Homo sapiens: one gene and its partners. The protein of the gene in region 3 interacts with the protein of the main gene of each other region in a biochemical or structural test. Each region holds a gene or a part of one and is shown on either strand. Other genes may lie near its edges.

What was found. Proteins that work in one complex are often made in the same cells at the same time.
Region 1: the proteins of AHSG (region 3) and INSR form a complex in vitro, tested with the Homo sapiens proteins (one study listed by BioGRID).
Region 2: of the proteins of AHSG (region 3) and FAM20C, one has a biochemical effect on the other in vitro, tested with the Homo sapiens proteins (one study listed by IntAct).

Annotation. Positions count from the first base shown.
Region 1 is NC_000019.10:7,115,748-7,123,637, forward strand, and holds part of INSR (insulin receptor isoform Long preproprotein), read right to left. Parts: intron 7,243-7,890; coding exon 7,132-7,242; intron 7,027-7,131; coding exon 6,867-7,026; intron 5,003-6,866; coding exon 4,873-5,002; intron 3,837-4,872; coding exon 3,702-3,836; intron 1,664-3,701; coding exon 1,309-1,663; 3' UTR 1-1,308. UniProt on the Homo sapiens protein: Receptor tyrosine kinase which mediates the pleiotropic actions of insulin.
Region 2 is NC_000007.14:187,820-196,237, reverse strand, and holds the start of FAM20C (extracellular serine/threonine protein kinase FAM20C precursor), read right to left. Parts: upstream 3,668-8,418; 5' UTR 3,039-3,667; coding exon 2,434-3,038; intron 685-2,433; coding exon 506-684; intron 1-505. UniProt on the Homo sapiens protein: Golgi serine/threonine protein kinase that phosphorylates secretory pathway proteins within Ser-x-Glu/pSer motifs and plays a key role in biomineralization of bones and teeth.
Region 3 is NC_000003.12:186,615,467-186,622,115, reverse strand, and holds the end of AHSG (alpha-2-HS-glycoprotein isoform 2 preproprotein), read right to left. Parts: intron 6,432-6,649; coding exon 6,321-6,431; intron 5,674-6,320; coding exon 5,589-5,673; intron 4,933-5,588; coding exon of another isoform or gene 4,930-4,932; coding exon 4,766-4,929; intron 3,581-4,765; coding exon 3,479-3,580; intron 2,260-3,478; coding exon 2,176-2,259; intron 1,531-2,175; coding exon 1,186-1,530; 3' UTR 798-1,185; downstream 1-797. UniProt on the Homo sapiens protein: Promotes endocytosis, possesses opsonic properties and influences the mineral phase of bone. Shows affinity for calcium and barium ions.

The DNA of each region.
Region 1 (7,890 bases), on a different chromosome or scaffold from region 3:
GCTTATCCGAACAGGAACCTTCCAGCAGACCTGGTACCTGAACCAGACCATCCATAAAACCTAGTCTCTCACACACTCCACGTGGCCTCACAACATCCAAAAGTGTTAGCAGCGAACATGGCTTCATTCCCAGAAATGGATGCCTTTAAGACCAAACAAAGAGGCCACTTGTGCCTGACTCCCTCCCCTTCCCGGCCCCACAACAGGCAGACCAACTCATGTCCCCACTCCCCGCCAACCCCGGGGAATAGTCAATAACTTATGAGGCTAATACCAGAGACTTTAAAAATTAAATATGGTACAAATATATTCTCAAAACTCTGTCATCTCAGTTCTTTTTTTTTTTCCTTTTTCCATTTTGTTTTTTCTTTCTTTTTCTTTTTTTTTTTTTAATGTCCTAGCTTGGTTTGGTCTTGAAAAGATTCATAATCACTCCAAATGAAATGCTCCTCCCTTGGCCACCAATGTGAAGGGAGGGTAGAAACCTGAGGCTAGACTTCTGACACAAGAAGAATCTGTCGAGAGCACAGTCTCCCAGTCAATAAGAAGGAAGGAGAGAGGGGGATGAGCTCGCACCCTTGAGAAGAACCTTCATGAGCCAATTCCCAAAGCATCAACTCCGCATGGATACTTTGCACACACATCAGCCGTGTCTAATGGACACACACACGTGCATACACACGTGAGCACACGCCGGGACCACAGACCCTTATCCAAAATATGAAAGCAGCAGCTATTGGTCAATTTGAGGAACTCATTTTGTAAAGAAAAAAAAAATCCTTCAGCCTGGATGAGAGAAAAAAAAAAAACCAAAAAAACCATCTTGAAGCTCAACCTGTAAAACTTGAAATTCTCCTGGAACAGGGCTGGGTGTTTTTGTTTTGTTTTTTCTTTCGAACTTTTGTTCCACAAACAGGAAGTTTTGTCTTTTATACTGAAGCTCAGACACCAGCAAAAAAAAAAAAAAAAAAAAAGAATTTGTAAAAACAGGTGCTTTCTTTCCATCTGCTGGGGGCGGGTGGGGGGAACGAAAAAACACAAAATCCTGGTTTGAAACCGTCGTTGCCCCAAAGGAGCAGCAACTGTGGAAACCCCTTGCCCTCCAGGTTCACAGTTAAATCCTCTGCAGGACTAGTTAAATTGGTAACCAAACGAGTCCACCTTAAGATGAACAGAAATGTATAGGAACGATCTCTGAACTCCATTGGACATGGTAGAGTCGTGAGAATCCTGAGTTTTCCAGAGGCTTTCAAACCAGAGGAAAGCGAAAATGGGAACCCCTGCCCGCCCCCGCCACGGTAGGCACTGTTAGGAAGGATTGGACCGAGGCAAGGTCAGAATCCGCCCGTTTTTCTTGCCTCCGTTCATGTGTGTGTAAGGGATGTGTTCCTCGTAGCTCCGCTTGAAACCCAGCGAGGACCCTCCATCCCGGCCCCCCGCCTCCTCCCTCTGACAGTGCGAGGAACGGTCCAGGGGCACATTCTCCATGTCCTCAAACTCCATCTCCAGCTCCTCACTCTCGGGAGCCTTGTTCTCCTCGCTGTGGAAGAACGACACCTCTGGAAAGCTGGGGTGCAGGTCGTCCTTGAGCAGGTTGACAATCTCCAGGAAGGTTGGCCTCATCTTGGGGTTGAATTGCCAGCACATGCGCATGAGGTCAGTGCTGCGGGGCAGAAGGACACGTCCTGGGTGAGTCTGGGGGCCCTGCCACGCATCCTCCCAAACCCCCACTCTTGTCCCTGCAGCCGACACCCACGGACCACATGTGCTCACATCAGATGCTGGCTGTGTGTGTGGACAATTGTCAAGGCAGAAATAGCATTGCTAGAGGTGCTGAGAGATGGTGTTTTCTTTTTGCTTTTCTTCTTCTTATTTTGGACACAGCGTCTCATTCTGTCACCCAGGCTGGAGTGCAGTGGCATGATCATAGCTCACTGCAGCCTCTGCCTCCTAGGCTCGAGCAATCCTCTCACCTTGGCCTCCCAAGTAGCTGGGACCACAGGTGTGCACCACCATGCCTAGCTAATTTTTGTATTTTTTGCAGAGACAGGGTTTTGCTATGTTGCCCAGGCTGGCCTCAAACTCCTAGGCTCAAATGATCCACCCACCTTGGCCTCCCAAGGTGCTGGGATTACAGGTGTTAGCCACCATGCCTGGCCGCTTTTTTTTTTTTTTGAGACAGGGTTTCTCACTTTGTCACCCAGGATGGAGTGCAGTGGCGCAATCATAGCTCATTGCAGCCTTGAACTCCTGGGCTCAAGCCATCCTCCTGCCTCAACCTCCCAAAGTGCTGAGGTTCCAGGCATGAGCCATCCTGTCCAGCCTGAAAGATGGTTTTGAAAAGGGATTCCTCATTTCAAAACTGGCTCAAGAGTAATCCCAGCACTTTGGGAGGTTGAGCCAGGAGGCTGAGTCCAGGAGTTCAAGGTTGCAGTGAGCTGTGATTGTGCCACTGCGCTCTACCAGCCTGGGTGACACAGCGAGACTTCATCTAAATATATATATATGTACATATGCATATATATTTGGAGGGGGGAATATATAATATGTATGCCTGACAAAATTTTTGTGTGTCTGTGTTTGTTTTTGAGACAGAATCTCACTCTGTCACCCATGCTGCAGTGCAATGGTGCAGTCTCTGCTCACTGCAACCTCTGCCTCCCCGATTCAAGCAATTCTCCTGCCTCAGCCTCCTGAGTAGCTGGGATTACAGGCGCCCACGACCGCGCCTGGGTAATTTTTATATTTTTAATAGAGGCGGGGTTTCACCATGTTGGCCAGGCTGGTCTTGAACTCCTGACCTTAGGTGATCGTTCACCTCGGTCTCCCAAATTGCTTGGGATTACAGGCGTGAGCCACCCATGCCCAGCTACCTGACAAAATTTTAAGTGTATAAAGAATTAACAGGCGGCTGTAATCCCAGCACTTTGGGAAGCCAAGGTGGGTGGATCACGAGGTCAGGAGATCGAGACCACGGTGAAACCCCATTTCTACTAAAAATACAAAAAAAAAAAAAAATTAGCCAGGCGCGGTGGTGGGTGCCTGTAGTCCTAGCTACTCGGGAGGCTGAGGCAAGAGAATGGTGTGAACCCGGGAGGCGGAGCTTGAAGTCAGCCGAGCTCGCACCACTGCACTCCAGCCTGGGTGACAGAGCAAGATTCCGTCTCAAAAAAAAAAAAAAAAAAAAAAAAATTAACAGGCAAACAGGTCTCTCTCCCCCAACCCCAGGTCTCCAGTTCCCTTCTCCCAAGATAACTACCGCTATAGGTGTTTTGTGCAACCTTCCAAAGATACAATATGCAAGAAAATCATATGATTTGTGAACACAAGCAGGCAGGTAAAGACATAATATGTAAACATGTGTGCTTATAATATGTAAATGAGGTGTACATGTGCCATGATATGCTGATGCACACAGAAACATATAATATGCAAACATAAATACCTATGTAAATATATAATATGCAAACGTAAGCGTACATGTAGCACATATGGGAACTCAAGTGTGTGTACCACAATGCAATATGCAAATGCAAGCATGCATGTAAAGACAAGCTATGCAAACACAAACACACCTGTAACATACAGCATGCAAACACGGTGAGCGTGTAGACATAGGAAAGGCAAAACCAAGCACACGTGTAAAGGGCAATACCCTTTCAACGAACACCTCACACACCTTAAACCCTTTCTACACTTACACTCTCTCTGGACAGTTGTCGGGTTGATCCAGATACCCTCCATCCATGACAAATTTCAACACCTGTTCATTAGACAGGCCTTGGTAAGGCTGTTCTGCCAAGCTGGTGATTTCCCAAAGGACCACGCCAAAGGACCTGCCGATGACAGTTGATAGTAGTAACAAAGAAGCCATTTAGACACACACACACACGCGCGCGCGCAAACACACACACGCAAACGCACACACACACGCAAACACACATGCCAACACATACATGCAAACACACACATGCAAACACACACGCACATACACGTGCACACACATGCAAATACACACAAACACGCATGCGCACACATGCACACACAAATATGCAAACACACAAACACATATACACACACAAACACACACACCCAAACACACACACGCACACACATGCAAACACACACAAACACACATATGCACACACATACACACACAAACACACACACAAACACATCTCTTGGTTTCTAGAACATGGTTAGCCACTTAATAAAACAATTCATGCTGCAGTTCATAAATGCTGTGAAAGGAAAATCAATTTGGGGCTCCCAAATCACTAAACTCAAGGAAAAAGTCCAGCTAGGAACTGCTTGGACAAACCTGCTTCCCATTCTATTCAGAGTCCCCACTCTGCTCACTGAGATACCTGCATATCTGATTGGCTCCTTTGGAGAGGCGCATCAGAAACTCAAAAGAATGCAACCATTTGTCTCTTATCTACCTACAACCTGGAAGCTCCCTCCCCACTTCGAGTTGTCTCGTCTTTCCAGACCGAACCAATGTTCATCTTATATATGTTGACTGATGTCTCATGTCTCCCTAAAATGTATAAAACCAAACTGTGCTCTGACCACCTTGGGCACCTGTCCTCAGGACCACCTGAGGCTGTGCCACGGGCACACGTCCTCAACCTTGGCAAAATAAACTTCCTAAATTAACTGAGACCTGTCTCAGATTTTCGGGGTTCACAATGCCTACAGGATTAGTCAGGACATAAGAGTAGCCGTGGGAAGATCCTAAGACAGGACGCTGCCTTCCTTTCCTTGATGGGGCGTCCAGGAGGATGGCAGGCTTCCTTCCCCCGCTCTTGGCTCTCACTAGCACCTGGAATTCAAGCCCAGCGTCCATCCACCCATCCACACACAACTCACCACATGTCAGAAGAAGTGGTGAAGACCCCATCCTTCAGGGACTCCGGTGCCATCCACCGTACAGGGAGCAGACCCTTGCCCCCTTTCCGGTAGTAATCCGTTTCATAGATGTCTCTGGTCATTCCAAAGTCTGACAACACAAAAGGTTCACACGCTCTTAACCTTCAGCCTTGGTCCTAGCATCTGCCACCTTGACTGCCCCACCTCTCACAGAGCCCTAAGAGGGGTTCACCTGGCCCACGTCTGCGCTCACCTGGGTGGTGGCCAAATCCAGTAAGAATGGATTCTGAGGGTACGCATGGGGAAGTGAAGGGGGAAGATGGGCTACTGTTTAAAGGGAGGGAAAAGAAGGTACCAAATCACAAAGAAGCTACATTTTTCTTTTTTTTTTTCTTTGATATGGAGCCTCACTCTGTCCTCCAGGCTGGAGTGCAGTGGTGCAATCTTGGCTCACTGCAACCTCTACCTCCCTGATTCAAGCAATTCTCTTGCCTCAGCCTCCTGAGTAGCTAGGATTACAGCTGTCTGCCACCATGTCTAGCTAATGTTTTGTATTTTGAGTAGAGACAGGGTTTCACCGTGTTGACCAGGCTGGTCTCGAACTCCTGATCTCAGGTAATCTACCCACCTCAGCCTCCCAAAGTGCTGGGATTACAGGGGTGAGCCACCGCACCTGGCCAGGAGATGTCTTTTTGAGTCATAAATAGAATCATATCACTTCCTGCTGCCCCTTGCTAATGTAAGATAATGTCGAGATGACTTGCTGTGACACGCAAGGTCCTTCTGGGTCTGGTTTCTGCCTCTCTCCTCATCCTCACATCTCACGCTGCTCTGGTCCCCTCTATATTCCTTTTTTATTTGTTTTTTGAAATAGCGTCTCACTGTCACCCAGGCTGGAGTGCAGTGATGCTGTCACAGCTCACTGCAGCCTCCACCTCCTGGGCTCAAGCAATCCTCCCACCCCAGCCTCCTGAGTAGCTGGGACCACAGGTGTGCACCACCACACCCCACTTTTTAAAAAATCTTTTCAAGGAGATGGAGTCTCACTATGTTGCCCAGGCTGGTCTCAAACTCCTGGACTCAAGCAGTCTTTACACATTGGACTTCCAAAGCACTGAGATTACAGGCGGGACCCCCGGTCCTACAAACATATCTTTTAAAGAAGTGAATGGGTAAGTGAGTTTATCAATACATGCAATTAAATGACAGCTGGTGGGGGGTCCCCATCCAAAATCTTGCCCAGCCAGGCACAGTGGCTCATGCCTGTAATCCCAGTGCTTTGGGAGGCCAACACAGGTGGATCATATGAGGTCAGGAGTTTGAGACCATCTTGGCCAACACAGTGAAACTCCGTCTCTACTAAAAATACAAAAAGTAGCTGGGTGTGGTGGCGCACGCCTGTAATCCTAGCTACTCAGGAGGCTGAGGCAGGAGAATCGCTTGAACCCAAGAGGTGGAGGTTCAGTGAGCCGAGATCCTGTCACTGCACTCCAGCCTGGGCGACAGAGCAAGACTCCATGTCAGAAAAAAGAAAAAAAAAAAAAGCCGGTGCAGTGGCTCACGCCTGTAATCCCAGCACTTTGGGAGGCCGAGGCAGGAGGATCACGAGGTCAGGAGATCAAGACTATCCTGGCCAACATGGATGAAACCCCATCTCCACTAAAAATACAAAAATTAGCCAGGCATGGTGGCGCACACCTGTAGTCCCAGCTACTTGGAAGGCTGAGGCAGGTGAATCACTTGAACCTGGGAGGTGGAGGTTGCAGTGAGCTGAGATCACACCACTGCACTCCAGCCTGGGCAACAGACAGAGTAAGACTCCGTCTCAAAAACAAAAAGACAAAACAAAACAAAAAAAACCCCACAAAAAAAAAAGAAGTATCTTGCCCCTTTATATTATCAGAAAAGACTTAACGGCTCATTATAGACAACTTCCTTCTGAAATCAAACCTGGCCTGGGTCGTTATGTTTTCAAAGCAGAAAGCCAGACGAACCTCCAATTTTGACAGTAAAATCATGGGCGACCATGCAGTTTCTCGCTGCCAGGTCCCGATGCACAAACTTCTTGGCGTTCAGGTAGGCCATCCCGTCAGCAATCTCTGCCGCCATCTGAATCATCTCTTGAAGGGTAGGGGGAGGGCGGCCAGGATTATTCTAAAACAGAAACACGGGGTTGGTGTTTCAGCAGCACTGGGATCCGAGGAGGCCAGGAGCGGGTGCTCCACCGAGTACCCCGCTGGGTCCCCCGAAGCAGCTTACCTCAGCCTCTGGCCGCAGAGAACGGAGGTAGCTCTTCAGGTCTCCGTGAGCCATCAGCTCCATCACCACCAGCGTGGGCTGGCCCTTGGACACCACTCCCAGGAGGCGCACCTGCAGAGCAAGCAACCAGGGTTCTTGGAGGAGGGTCCGTGATTCGACTCACCAGGGTTCTCCTCCCTCCCTGGTGTCTATGTCACACACAGCACCCTGTGGCCTGGATGCAGCGTGCTCAGCCCTGGTCTAGGAGAGCAGACATACCTGCCCGGACAGCAGACAGATAGGCCTTTGTATTTTTTTTTTTTTAATTTTCGAGACGGAATCTTGCTGTTACCCAGGCTAGAGTGCAGTGGCGTGATCTCGGCTCACTGCAACCTTTGCCTCCCGGGTTCAAGCAATTCTCCTGCCTCAGTCTCCCGAGTAGCTGGGGTTACAGGTGCCCGCCTCCACACCCGGCTAATTTTTGTATTTTTAGTAGAGACAGGATTTCTCCATGTTGGTCAGGCTGGTCTTGAACTCCTGACCTCTGGTGATCCGCCTGCCTCAGCCTCCCAAAGTGCTGGGATTATAGCCACTGCACCCAGCCAGGCCTTTGTATTTTAATCATTCCCTCTGCCTGGCTCTCTGTTCCCTGCCACATCCACAGGGCCCAGCTCCTCATGTCCTCTAAGTCTTTGCTCAAATACACCCCTGTCCAACCCTCCTTTCCTCCCTTTCTTCATGTTTCCATAGCATTTGCTCCTAATGTATAAAGGGTTTGGA
Region 2 (8,418 bases), on a different chromosome or scaffold from region 3:
TGTCTCCTCAGTATGAAACTGCACAGCGCCTTGCTGAGGTCTGACGAAGGACGGCTTCAAAACCACAAGAAGCAGGCTCATGGCTGTCTCCCCACCCAGCCAGGGTCGTGTGTAGAAAAGCAGGAGAGTTCCATGCACACGCTTCCGGTGGAGGGGTCACCGCCGCCAGAGATACCCCTCTATTCCTCTACCCCAGGAGGGAAGGACTCTGTCATCCAGTTGGCACCCCCGGGACCACCCAGGTGAGGACGCAGAGCGCAGTGGACCGGCTGTCCAGGCGTCTCCCCGCTCATCGTGCGGCAGATCAGGAGCACATCCAGTGTGAGAGCACACGAGACGCGAGCCCTCTGTCCCTCCTCGCTGCCCGTGCAGATTGCTGCAGGAGGTGACGCTGCCGTAATGAGCAACGGCCTCCCAGACCTCTCTAACACATAGCCTGCCCCAGCAGCCCTGATGCCACACAGCCGGCACACAGACGGCCCTGAGTGCACCCAAGGACACCTACCCACGCTGGTGATCCTCTGGGAGCTGAGGTCGTGCAGCAGGGCCTCGATGGCCGGGTTGTGTCTGGAGTACAGCTCGTACCGGTTGATACCAATGTGGAACTTGAGCCAGTTGGGATAGGAGTCCACGGCCGCCTCCCCGGGGGAGAGGAATTCTGCACCTTCAGCACCCGCATGCGGCCTGCAGGGAGCAGCGAGGACGAACATCAGCATGGAAAGAACAGGCCCGTGAGTCGGATGACGGGGAGAGGGCACCGACGCCAGTGTTTTTAACTTTGGGTTCAAGCAAGTGCAGATGTGTTGAAGGCGCCTCTGCTTAAAGAGGGCCCTGCAACGTCTGCGCTTTCTTCTGTGGCCGCTCGGCTGCCAACTAATAACACGGTGAAAGGCCTGTAATTCTTACTCACCCTCTGGAGACACCACAGACAGCTCTAACTACAGCAAAACTAATTCCAGGACGTCAGCGCTGCCCTGCCATCCCCGCCACGTCTGTCCCAGGGTCACCGAAATGGCCCAACCATGACCTCAGCTGAGGGTGCGAGGGGCTGTGGCCCTCCCCTGGAGTAGAGGGGAGAACCTACCATTGACCACAGGCTGCATGAAACTCACAGACACGCCCAGTCTGTCAGGAACCTTCCCCAGCTCTCTGCTTTTGTTCCAACAACCAGGGGCACAATGATGCAAGAGGCTAAATTTGATTTTAATGAGAGCAGCCTTGGGTGGGGAGAGAGGAAGGAGGCAGCACTCTCTCCAGCCCAGGCTCCCATGGAGGACCCGCCGCCCACGCAGCCTGTCCTCACATCTCTGGGGTCAAGGGACCGTTCTGGAGGAGGGACAGACCCTCCGTCTGCCTGCTGGGCTGGAGGGAAACGCGGAACTTGTCCTAGCTCGAATTCACCTAAAGCTGAGGTGCTTTCTGCCGAAGCTCTGTCCTGCGGTGGACACGGGGGCGGGGTGGGGGGCTAGGATACACTTCCTGGCCACTCGCTGCTCTGGGCGGCCGTCTCTCCCTGCCGAGAGCCACAGCCCAGGCCAATGCTCTGGTTCTCAAATTTCCAAGCATTTCCTTGAACCTGACCAGCAGGCAAGGCTCAGAGGCTTCCAAACAGCCAGTGTGTTTAGACAGAAGACACTGGGCCTGGACATTTCAGGGAAGAAGGGACTTTCAACCAGATCTTTTGGAAGGCTGGTCTCCCCCTCTGCTGCTGGGGTAACCTTCGGCAGGTAGTTACTTATTCTGGCCTTGTCGTGGTTAATGTTCCACTGCTTCGGTGTAGCATCTGCTTGTTTTGATCTGTGTGGCGGAGGGAGGGGCCGGGGGGTGGGGAAAGGGCTTAGCCAGGACAGTTTAAAGAGAGGTTCCTGCCGTGGCTTCTCGCCCTTTATCGAGCCATCATCTCTTTGCAGCCAGCACACCCACCGCCCTTGCTGGCTGGGCCGCCTTGTTGCACCTCACGGCTGCCAGCAAGCCCCTCTGATAATTCTGCTCCAGCCACTGGGTTTAAAAGACTCAATAGGCACATCCAGACCTTCTCCAAGGTGCCCACCCAGAGCACCCTCGCCAAGTGTCTGAAAGCCCAGCGGCAGCCTGGCTCCTTCCCTCACCAACTCATTCATTCATTGCCTGACCCCATTTCCCAAGCTGGTGACCACGGCTGGTCAGGACTCGCTTCTAAAGGGCGCGGGGTCTGGCTTCCTCACCAGCAGCCACAGGGCACAGCTCCCGGACCAGCCGGCAGCCCCTCCCAAGGAGGAGGTTATTCTGGAGACAAAGGCAGCGCCCTGAGGTAGGCGGCTGCCTCCTCCCGCACCACACTCCCTGCCCGGCCTCTTCCATGGGGGGCGGCCCTCTGGGGCCCCTGAACCTCTCTACACCATGCCTTGGGCTCACGGCTCCCTTGGGGGTGGGCACCTGCCAGCCCCCACTCACCAGTCCGGGTTCTCCGCCGCTTTGGGGCTGAGCCTGGTGTCGCTGTTCACATTGAACAGGACGTCCTCCTCCGTGAGCGGCGGAACCGCCACCCGGTAAAGCGGGTGCTCGAACAGCCTGGCCAGGAGGGAGGCGTCTCCGCCGGGGCCGGGGGGCGACTCGGACCGACGCGGGCCGGGGTCTCGCAGCAGCGGCCGGTGCGCGGGGTCGTGGGGTCTTAGGGCGCCGGGATCCCGCCCCCGCAAGGCGCGCTCGGCCGGCTCGGCCGCGGGCGGCAGTTTCTCCAGCGAGTGGGACGAGAGGTTGGAGGAGGGGTCGGAGCTGAAGTCCTGCAGGATGCGGAGCGTGTGCTTGTTGGGCCAGCCCGCGTCGCCGGCGGCGGAGGAGGCGGCCGGGGGCTCCCCGGGGCGGCCCCGAACCTGGGCCCAGCCGGGCGCGGCCACCTCGGCGGCGGGCTGCGCGCACGAACAGCCGGGCTCCCCCGAGGGCCGCGCGCCGCGTCGCTCCAGCCTGGGCAGCAGGTCCAGGGCGATGTGCAGCGCGCAGGCCACCAGGAACACCATCAGGATGAGCACGCGGAACCGGCGCACCAGCATCATCTTCATGGCCGCGCGGGCCGGCCCGGGCCTGGAGCGCGTTCTGCCCGCGCGCCCCTCTAGCTGCAGCTGGGCACGAGCGCGGCGCCGCCTCGCGGGTCAAGGTCCATCGGTGCCGGGCGGCTACCAGCTCCGGGGCTGTCCCCGGGCCCGGGCCGCGTGCAGGGCGCCCGCCGCCGGAGCGCTGGGTCCCCGCGCCATCTCGGGCCCGTCCCCGCTCGGCCTCTCCGGAGCGGCCGCGCCCTCAGCCGGGGAGCCCAGGGGTCCTGGTCCGCGGAGCCGGGCGCGCGGGGGGCGGCTGGGGCCGCAGCAGGGGGAGGCTCGGCGCTCGCAGCCGCCGGCGCGGGGCTCATCGGGCGTGTGGGTCCATCCCGGCCGGGGCGCGACGGGCCTGGGCGGTGGCGGCGGCCGCAGGCGTCCCGATCCTCAGCGCGCTCCTCTCCAGGCGCCGGGCGGGCGGGCGGGGAAGGGGCGGCTCCTCCGGGCCGGGCTCTGCTCTCACGCCGCGCCCGGGAGACCGGGGCTGGGGGGAAGGGGGGGGCGAAGGGCGGAAGGGGTGGGCGCGGGGAGCGGCCGGCGGGGTCCCGGGCAGGTGCAGCGGCCGCCCCGAGCGCAGCTCCCGCCTGGCCGAGCCTCTCGGCGCCCCGCGTCCCGGGCGGGCAGATATCGAGCGCCGCGGAGCCGCCCCCCGCGTCAGCGCCCACAGATTGGCGGAGCCGCCGCCCCACGAGTCACGGCTGGGCCCGGGCCGGCTGCGCTCCCGCTCTCCTTCCTCCTCCCCTCGGCCGCGCCCCGCGACGCCTCTGAGCTCCGGGCCCGCTAAGGAGAGGGCTCCTCCTGCCCGCGGTTTGCAGAGGGAAGCGGCGGAGACCGGGAGGGCGCGCTCGGTTCTGGCCAGGCCAGCAGCTGCGGCCGAGTGGGGGGCTCCGGCCTGGCCGCTTCCTGGGACCCCCTCCCGCCCGGGGCCGCCGCCGCCAGCTGCAGCCTCTCGGCTCCTCCCCAGAGGAGCGCGGGGCCGGGGCCCAGGCCAAGTCCCTCCCCGGAGCCGCGGGGCGTCTGCGCCGCCGGATGAGCTCCCCGCCGGGCGGCGACCCCGTGCCCCACGCCCGTCTCGGCAAGGAGGAGGCGGAGGCGGCCCCGCGAGAGAGGCCCAAGGAGCGACTGGGCCTGGACCCAGGGGACGCCAGGGCAGCGGAGCTCCCGGCACCGGTCCCGTCCCCCCCCCCCCGCCCACCCGCGGGACGCGCCCGCCTTAACCCTCCAGGCGCCGGGCCCGCTGGGGGCGCTGAGAGGGGCTGGTGTGCCGGGGGCGCCTTCCTGCTTGGGGCCGACGGGGGTGTGTGAGTGCAGGCGTGTGCGTGTGTGTGCGCATGTGTGTGTGTGGATGTGCGTGTGCGTGTGTATGCCTGTGTGTGTTTGTGTGTGCGTCTGTGTGCATGTGTGTGTGCACATGCATGTGTGTTCACGTGAGTGCATCTCATCTGTCACCCACAACCAGGGGAGCGGTGCTTGTACAACCAGCTGGTGGCTTCTGCAACCAGCAGCTTCTGGCCGTGCAGCTCCCTGTAGGGAATATGAGTTAATCTGGATGTCAGCCTAAGATGTAGTCAGGGAGGTAAGTGTGTGGGAGGAGGCCACATCCCCTGTGCCTCAAGCCGGCTGCTTCCACAGTGCCCAGACTGCCTGGGCCAGCAGCCTCGCCAGCAAGCCCAGGCGGGTGGGCCGGGAGCAGGGCCTGGGCCCCCCCTCTTACTTTCACCGGCTGGCTGTGTTACCAGGGCCCTCTCCGCCCTCTCTGAGCCTCAGTTTCCTCTGATGTGAATTAAGGGCGTTGAGCCCATTGTTCCTGAGGAATCACTCATCTCTGAGCCTGGCCCATTGCCTGGCATTCCGTGGGCACCCACTAGATACTTATAAGGGGAGAAGTTGTTCCAGTCCGGCTGGCCAGTGGAATCCATGCGTCTTGGGCCATTTGAAGTGAGTGAAGGGCTGGGTGCGGCCCACCTGGAGCTGGACTGGAGGCTGTGTTGGGTGGGGCGGTGTGACCTGGAGGTGGGCTGCCCCCTCAGGAGACAGCTTCACCCCTGTGAGTGGACCTCATCCTTCCTTCCTTCCACTCACATGGACAGCACATCTGTGTGTAGACAGGGTCACTGAGAGAGGCCAAGGAGGGTGAGGAGGAAGATCCCGGGTGTGGGGGGAGTCCTGGGGGAGCAGACAGCAGGGACAGAAGCCTGTGGCAGGAAGGAAGGTCTTGGCCTGTGTTCTCCCAGCAAGGGTCCCCTTGGACTTGGAGTTCTATAGGCTCCTGGCCCCCCCATCTCTCCCGTGGTCTACAGGACCTCGACGCAGAGCTGTGGCTAGTGTCTTGGGGCAGACATGGGGCTGAGCAGACCCCATGGAACACTATTATCCGGTGTGGGGGGCCTCATGGAGGTTCCCTGGGCACTTACTTTCACTTGCCTCCTGCCCCCAACTCCTCTCCCCTCCCATCCTCACCCCCAGAGTGGTTTTTGGGAGCCCGGCAGCTATCTGGACCCGTGTGCACCCCTGGACGCCTCCCTCCCTCGCAGAGGGTCCTGGTTCATCTCGTCTGTTGCCTCTTAGAACAGTGGCCTCTACCTCGCCAGGTCCTTCAGAAGCGCCCCCCTCCCTGCCCCGCCACTGTTTTCCCAACAGCACCCGCCGTGGTCTGAGGACACTTTCTTCTGCTCCTGTTTATTGTTTATCTCCCCCAAGCACAAGCAGTCGAGTTAAGACAGGAGCCTCGTTCAAAGTTCCGCCCGGGGCCAGGCACAGCGCAGGCTCTCAGAGGAGGGCCCAGGAGTCCACAGGCTGCGGCGGCGCGAGACAAAAGTCGGAAGACAGGACCCCGCTGAGGAGTGAGGAGACAGCGGCCAACCCTCCGCCAGACCCTTCCGCCTGGTGCCTTTACTGGGCTCTGAGGAGGAATTTGGTGGTTCAGTCGGCCCATCCGTGGACACCATAAAAACAAAGAGAAAACAGACACACACAGATGCACACATAGATACACACAGATACACACAGACACGGATATATAGACACACACAGATACACACACGTGGACACAGACACACACATAGACACAGATATATAGACACACACAGATACACACACGTGGACACAAACACACACAGACATACCCATAGTTACGGATATATGCATGGATACACAATACACAGACACACAGATGATACATGCATAGACAGATATATGGACACACACACACGGACACACAGATACACACATAGACACATAGACAGACACAGATACAGACACAGGCACATGTAGACACACATGGACATACAATACTCAGATGAACACAGAGATAATATACACATAGACACAGATCTATAGATACACAAAGACATACACACAGATATACATAGATGCACACATAGACACAGATACACATGTCATCACACATGGACACACACAGACACACACCAATACACACATAGACATACGAAGACACAGGTACACAGACACGTATACACACAGACACGCATATATACATACAGACGCAGATATACACACAGACACAGACATACACACACACACAGACACAGATATACACAGATACATGGACAGATACACATTCACATACACACATAGATACACAGAAACACACAGACACACAGACACATAGAGACACACACACAGCCACACAGGCCCTGAGCCTCCCTGGGCCCTCCCTTGTGCAGAGGCGGAGGGGCTGGCTGTCGGGGAGGGCACCTGGAGAGGACACACAGCCCCATCAGAGACCAGGGAGTGGCTCTGGGAGCTCTTTTCGTCCAAAGGGGCTGGAGCTCCAGTTAGCCAAGGTGAGCGCCAGGTGGTGACAGGAATGACATAGGAAAATAAGACGGCCCGGGCAGGGAGGGCTGCCTGCTCTGGGTGTGAGGGGATTGCTGTCTTAGACCACGTGGCCCAGGAAGGCCTCCAGGCATGGCTTTGCACAGAAGCTGGTACCTGAGGGCTCAGCCCCGTGGAGGCCTGCGGGGTGGAAATGCCAAGGCTGGGGCAGGGGCATGTCTGACCCTCTGCGGGGAGAGAAGGCCTGTGAGGTGGGCATTGTGTGAGGGGCCAAGTGGCCTCTGTAAGGTCTGCAGGTGGGGCCAGGCTGTGGGCTGCGTCCTGAGTGAGGGGGCCGTGGGAAGGCTGGGGACAGAGGGACGACGCTGGGTCTTGGGTCGGGAGAGGCTCACCTAGGGGCCGGGTGGATGGGTCTAAGGAGGGCTAAGGGCGGGGCAGGGAGAGCAGCTGTGTGGTGAGGACGAAGGGAGGTCGGCCAGAGCCCCCGGGGAAGGGCTGTTGTCATGTGGATGAGCTGGGAATTAGGAAAGCTTGTGGATTGCGAGGCCTCAGTATGCAAAGCCCTGGGACAGACGGGCCCCCCAGGAATGAGGGGGGCAGACGGGCTCCCCAGGAATGAGGGGGGCAGACGGGCTCCCCAGGAATGAGGGGGACAGATGGGATCCCCAGGAATGAGGGGGGACAGATGGGTCCCCCAGGAATGGGGGGGGCAGACAGGCTCCCCAGGAATGAGGGGGGCAGACGGGCTCCCCAGGAATGAGGGGGGCAGACGGGCTTCCCAGGAATGAGGGGGACAGATGGGCTCCCCAGGATAAGGGGGGACAGAAGACCCCAGGCCTGAGGACCAGGCCTGCCCCCTGGCACCACCAGACACCAGGAGGGCACTGCTGCTCTTAATTGAAAGTCTTGGTGCAGGTGAGGGCGTGGAGGATTCCTGGGGGAAGCTTCGTGCTGCAAGGTGGAAAAGACAGATAACAAGAGAAAAACAGAAGCTTAATAGCATGTATACCTTGGTCTGCAAGGGACGGACTCGGGACAGGCTATGTCGCAAAGGCGTGGCTTGGAGCTCAGCCTTAAAGACCATGTTCGACGGAAACAAAGAGAAAGAGTGTGTGGGGAGGGGCCCAAGAAATTACCCCAAACTGGGGTCAGGCCTTCTCCATGGATGAGCGTCTCCGGTGACTTACAGGCGGCCTTCTGGCCCAGAGAGGGGGCACCCTGGTGAGCGCAGATGCCTGTACGGATGTGACTTTCTCTCATAGAACAGCAGCTTCCACTCTTGTTTTCAGAATTTCTCCTGTGGTTGCAGTTTCTCAAAATAAGCAGCTCAAAATAATGCTTATGCCAAAGAGGCATATTTTGGGGTGGCATATTCTGGTCTGCTCTACGTGGAAGCGGACAGAAAAATGGGGCAGAGGCCAGGGAGGGGAGCGGGACCGACTTCCAGTTCCCAGACCCGAGCAAGGGAACCTGAGGCCGAGCTCTGGAGCTTGGGGTCTGGAAGGGGTTCTCTGAGGACACTCTGGGAGTGGGGGAACAGCTGCCTCCTCAG
Region 3 (6,649 bases):
TATCTAATGATACTACAAGTCACAGCTTTAACTTGGGTCCTTAAAATAGATTGGCTAGGAAGACCAATCTTGTGTTATAAAATGAAGTGTATACAGTACACTCAACGTATATCTTAAACATAATTAACAACAGATATAAAGTGAGGATCTTGTTTTAATTACCAATCCCTCCTTACCTCGGTACTGGAGAAAATCAATGGATAGTTTATTCTGTACAAAGTTCAGGAGCTTGGCCCACCTTTAGCAATATTTTCTCTCTCTTATAAAATGAGAAGAATTATTTTCTCATAAAGAAATGGTCATATCTTGGCCAGGTGCGGTGGCTCACGCCTGTAATCCCAGCACTTTGGGAGGCCGAGGTGGGTGGATCATGAGTTGAGGAGATCAAGACCATCCTGGCCAACATGGTGAAACCCTGTCTCCACTAAAATAAAAAAAATTAGCTGGGTGTGGTGGCACGCACCTGTAGTCCCAGCTACTCAGGGGGCTGAGGCAGGGGAATCATTTGAATTTGGGAGGTGGAGCTTGCAGTGAGCCAAGATCATGCCACTGCGCTCCAGCCTGGGTGACAGAGTAAGACTCCGTCTCAGAAAAAAAAAAAAAAAGAAATGGTCACATCTTATGGGTTGTGGAAAGATCCTAGTCTCACTTTTTCCTGTATCTGGCAATACAGCAGGTTTTTGTTCTCTTTTGGTTCTCTTTTCACTTTGATTTTGATTAGGGACACTGTGTTTGTTGGGGTAAAAGGCTATGCATGTGAGGGGAGCTGGGATGAAGTCGCAATAAGCATGACCACATTCAGCTTAGAACCTTCTTTATTAAGGAAGGTCTTTCAGGCACTTTCATTAACAGGCACATATAAGCTTAGCAAGAGCACCTTTCAAAGTCACAGTTCCAATGGTTTTTGTAAGGTCAACCAGAGGCAGAGAACACAATCATGGTGGCTTACCGTCAAAATCATGACAAGTTGTCAACCTAATGCCTTCTGTCAAACATAACCACCACCCACTCTGCTTCTGTCCTGTGAGGAATGACGGGAAGTAGGGAGTCAAGACTTGATATTAATGTAGATCGCATGTGACACTTGCGTGGCCAGCAGACAAGGCCCCCCACCCATGCCCAGGCTTGGACAAAATGGTGGCTATGTTTTCTGTGCCAAACCTCCTCATCTCTGCCATGTCTAGCCTAGACCTTGAAGTGTCTGATCCTCCCCGGACATGGAGGAACCACTGGCCCAGCAGCAGCACCAACACTAGGCTGCACCACTGTGCGTGTTTTCCGGGGGTGCGACACTTCTCCTGAGGGTGACCCCAATGAGACCACACCCATGAAGGTGTGGCGCAGGTCGTAGTGCGCCCGGTGCAACTGGTGTCCTGGAGGAGCTGCCAGTAACACATGGGAGTCTGGGGGTGAGCCAGCTGGAGGGAGTCCAGGTGCGCCAAGTGGAGGGGACGGAGGTGCATCTGGGTCCACCACGGGTGTGGGGACTGCTTCATTGGCACCTTCTGGTTGGGGCTGTGAGCTCACGGGCTGGAAAAAGGACCATTTCCTTCAGTTAGTTTGCTTCCTCCTCCCAGGCAAGACAACCCACAGGCCCAGGTGGCACTGGCACCCAATTTCCTCACATTATACATTTTTATTTGCAAAGAGTCTAGCAAGAAAGGACCTACCCAAGTACAAGGGATTGTCATCAAGGTTACAAGGAGGGGTGACTGGCCTATGTTGGCCCCGGCCTCACTAGGATTGTCTTTGTGATGGTGGACTTACACGCATATGTCCAATGAGTAAAAGCACCCCACCTATGGCTCACCCTTGCCCAGCAGTGCCACCCTCTTTGTCATCTGAAGCTGCAGCCACTGGGAGCTAACAGGTAGATCTGGCCACCTGGTCTCTGCAACTCAGAAAACCACTCCCACCTCCCACAAATAAAAAGGTGGCTTTGTCAACTACACAGTAAGATGGTTCTTCCCTGTAGTCACTAGTTCGTGGGAGGGAAAGGCATAGCTAAAATATCCTTCCATTTGTTGATGATTCCGCATACCCCAGTGTTATTTCATACTGTGAGATTCAGAAGCACAGGAGAGCAAATGTCCTGTCATCACTACTGCACTGCATAAATGTGAAGGGGTCATTGTATTCTGAAGGTGTAGGCAAGAATATTCACGGAGCTGTTACCTGTGTTTGGAACACCATGCAGGTCACTGCAACCTCTGCCCCACCAAGCTTCTCACTGAGTGTTGCCTTACAAAAGCCATATTGCTGCCCACAGAGAAAGAGGATTTATTTTAACTAATTTCAAAAATGGATCCCCCCCAATTTCATTGACGCGCCAACCTTAAATTAGTTTGAAAAACCATTTTTCTTAAAGTTATAGTTTCTGCTTGTGGGAGGTATATGATTCTATATATAACATGGAAATACAGAAATACTTTGAGAGTGAGAGAGATTACCCATAATCCCTTTCTGGTGGTGGCCTAGAAAGAAGGACTGTTAACATTGATGCATTTCTTTCTTATTTTAAAATACTATTAAATATGATTTAAAAATTGAGATCATTGTGACTATACGATGTTGTATCCTGTGTGTTTTCACTTGCCATAATAGCATTTTCTCATATCATTCATTATTCCTTGAAAACACAATTTTTAGTGTCTGCACAATTTTCTATTTACTGATGTGCATGGATTATTCAATGACACCTTCCTGTTGGACATACAGATCTCTCTTTTTTGGTCTCTTTATATCCATAATAAATCATTTTTATAGATATATTCTGTCAAATGTCACTGATGAATTCTTTTTCTTTTTCTTTTTTTCTTGAGACAGAGTCTCGTTCTGTTGCCCAGGCTGGAGTGCAGTGGCACGATCTTAGTTTACTGCAACATCTGCCTCCTGGGTTCACACCATTCTCCTGCCTCAGCCTCCCGAGTAGCTGGGACTACAGGCGCTCACCACCAAGCCTGGCTAATTTTTTTGTATTTTTAGTAGAGACGGGGTTTCACCATGTTAGCCAGGATGGTCTCGATCTCCTGACCTCCCGATCCACCCGTCTTGGCCTCCCAAAGTGCTGGAATTACAGGCATGAGCCATCATGCCTGGCCACTGATGACTTCTTTAGACTAAAATCCTAGAAGTGTACATTATTGGCTCAAGGACTTGAAAGCTTTTGTATCAGAGTTATATGTCTAGAAAATGTGCACTTCACATTCCCAGTGGGTGGGCGTGACTTGGCTTCATTAGCAAATAGCCTCTCTCTTTCTCCTAACTTCATGTGCTTCCAGTGGGTGAGATGATTTGATGACAGCTCTTAAAGGGATGAGGTGACACCCTAAAAGAAGGCTTGCCGTGATCCACAGGGAGAGGGGATTTGCACTGTTATTCTCTGTCTGCAGCCCCAAGATACAAACTATCCAAGGATGTTCTGTTCCACAAACAGCTCTGTCCGAGTGGTAACACCCCAAGGTCCCGGCCCACTCACCTTTTCTGCCAGCAGGTTACACTTGGCTGCCTCTGTGGCCTCTTTAGCAACACAGTCAGTGCCAGACACTGTAAACTCCACATAGGTAGAAGGTGGGAGGGGCTGAGAAGAGTACATGAAAATGCTCTTGAGGAAAGATGACTTACAATGAAAAGGGCAGAGAAGGAGAGCGGGAAGTAGCCTCCTTCGGGGAGCACCATTCATGCAGACCATGCGTCGGCCCAGAAGACATGTCCCTCAATGGCTTACATAGGGCAGTTGCTATGGGGTTGTGTTCTCAAGTGCTTGTGCTTTAGAGGTAGGGGTTGTGTCTTCCTTGTAGGAGGGGCAAGTATCCATCACCGGTCCTTCAGGGTGGAGGTGAGTTTGCAGATAGGAAACCGGAATCAGAAGGCCAGCATTAGACTGATAGGAGTGGGAACCCTGCCTCCCCCCAGCCCTCACTCTTGGGCTGCACTTGATACCCAAGGTTCAGGTTATTCCAAAATAGGGTGGGAAAGTGAAGAGATTAATACCTCTTCCACCTGTTTCATAGAGCAGGCTCAAATGAAAAGATTTAGATGAAAGTATGGAAGATATCACTTGAGCTTTTCTTTTTTAAAGTAGTTGGAGCATATGGACACAATAAAATATCTGTTATTTGGTGTAGTCTGGGGTGGGGATGTTCTGAGAATCACATATTCTGATTAATAGAATTGCCGTCTATACTAGCGTATTTCCAAGTATGGCCATGGCTGATATCCAGAATACATTTTCTTAAACATTTGAATTCTGTTGAATTCCAATGTGCTAAACCACCCACAGTACAATGAGATGTTTTCTCCAGTGACTCGAAAGGCATTTTAAGATCTTGCCATTATAAGCTTGTCAGCACAAGTGAGTATTAATTACGAGTCTGTGGCAGATGTTCAGCGGAGATGGGTGGTACTGGAGCCCAGCAAATTTACAGTGAGTGCTTCTGGCCGACGTGGGCAACTCTACCAGCTGACACTGAGCTTTGGTTTTAGCTGGAACGGAGGGAGTGGGGATGTACCTGCCGGCAGCTGTGGCTGCTGGACGTTACAGTGGCTCAGCATGGGGGAGGCGCTGAGGGTGTTGGGGTCCTCATGACACTCAGGAGCCTCATACCCCCTTAGGATGCTTTCTTCCCTTTCCAAACAACCCTCTCCTTGCTTTCTCATCGCTGCCCCTGCGCCTGTTCTTCCCTGCCTCCCGCTCCACCACGTACAGTACATTCCCGAAGTGCCACCGAACTGCCCAACCTGTCAAAAGAATCTCAGTCTTTACCACAAGCTGAGCCCGGGAAATTTCCTCCAGCTGAAAATTGGAGCCGTTGTTCTGAGCGTTGAAGGCGGCCAGGGCAGCTTTCGCGGCGTGCACCACCCTGGTGTCGTTCAGCGGGGCCAGCAGGGGGCAGTCTTGGCACACCTTGCGCACGTCCTCGGCTGAGTCTGCTCGGAGAGAGGAAACCAGGATGTGGGCAGCCATTCTCCCTGGCATGGCCCCAGCTCTGCTGCGTTAGCAAGGGCTAAGGCATTCCCCAGATAGCTTCAGGCACTTTCTCTGCTTCTTACTAAACCTTCAAAAGGCTTTTGCTATGCTGACATTTCTGCAGGAGCTCTTATCATCACGAGGCAATTTTCACTTCCAGTAAGAATAACTTCTTATTTTTTTGAGACAGGGTCTCACTCTGTGTCACTCAGGCTGGAGTGCAGTGGTGCGATCTCGGCCCACTGCCACCTCTGCCTCCCAGGTTCAAGCGATTCTCCTGCCTCAGCCTCCCTAGTAGCTGGGATTACAGGCGAGCACCACCACATTTTTGTATTTTTAGTAGAGATGGGGGTTTCACTATGTTGGCCAGGCTGGTCTCGAACTTCTGACTTCAGGTGATCCACCTGCCTCGGGTGGGTGGATTACAGGCGTGAGCCACCGCACCAGGCCAAGAGTAGCTTCTTAAAACACAATTTTAAAAATCCCAGAACCCAGGAAATTTGGCTTCTCCTTTTCCTCACCGACAAAGCTGCTAGAACTACTTAAGTTGAAAATTATTCAGATCCCTTCCCCACTTTCTCTACAAGGAAAAAATGAGAATAAGAATAGTCATCTGTACCTGGACTGGAATCACATTTTGCGTATACCACGGAAAACTTGCCATCTAGTTTCAACAGCTGGAAATCACAGTCTCCTTCGACAGCCTGGAGAAAGAAACCCACGTGAGGATGGCTGCCCTTCCCCTTCGCACCCCGGGCAGGCTCCCTCCAGGCACGGCTGTCAAAGGTGACCCTTGCAAAATCGCCTTTGCTGGGTAATACTGAAACATGGCACTCTCTGCTTTCAGGGATACAACGATATAGTTAAACGCTTGTAAAAATCAGCCCCAGGGCAAGTGGCATCAAATGGCAATTTTATTTATGATGATGATTATTATTATTATTATTTCGAGATAGAGATTCACTGTTGTTGCCCAGGCTGGAGTGCAATGGCAGGATCTTGGCTCACTGCAACCTCCACCTCCCGGGTTCAAGCGATTCTCCTGCCTCAGCCTCCCGAGGAGCTGGGATTTACAGGTGCCCGTCACCACGTCCAGCTAATTTTTGTATTTTTAGTAGAGATGGGGTTTCACCATACTGGCCAGGCTGGTCTTGAACTCCTGACCTCAGGCGATCCACTTGCCTCAGCCTCCCAAAGTGCTGAGATTATAGGCATGAGCCACTGCGCTCGGCCACAAATGGCAATTTTAGAAACTGCACCCTGGCTAGCCAAGAAGGCAGGCTGAGACGCTGGGTGAATCGGTGGAGCTGGCCGAAGGGCCACCTACAGTCATCCTAAGAAGGGTACTCACATGCTCCTTCAGCTGCCTCACGCTGCATCTTGCCACAGGGGTGGGGTCCAGCACATGGCAGGTGGTTTCCAGGGTGTCTATTTCAATCTCAAACAGCTCTCCGGAGGGCTGCTGTGGAGACAAAGAGTGAAGCCGTGAGCAACCTATTCCCCTGATCCTGTGGTGCGGTCCACGGTATGCGCCCTCATTGGGCTTGAGAGCACCCCGCTTTTGGAGAGGTGAGGGAAATGTCATTCTTACTGTCAGTCTGCAACTCCGTCTAGCTCTGAACTGGCCTGTGGGCAGGACAATGACCAGGGCTTGTCTGGTCTTCGTCTGTTGATTAAGGA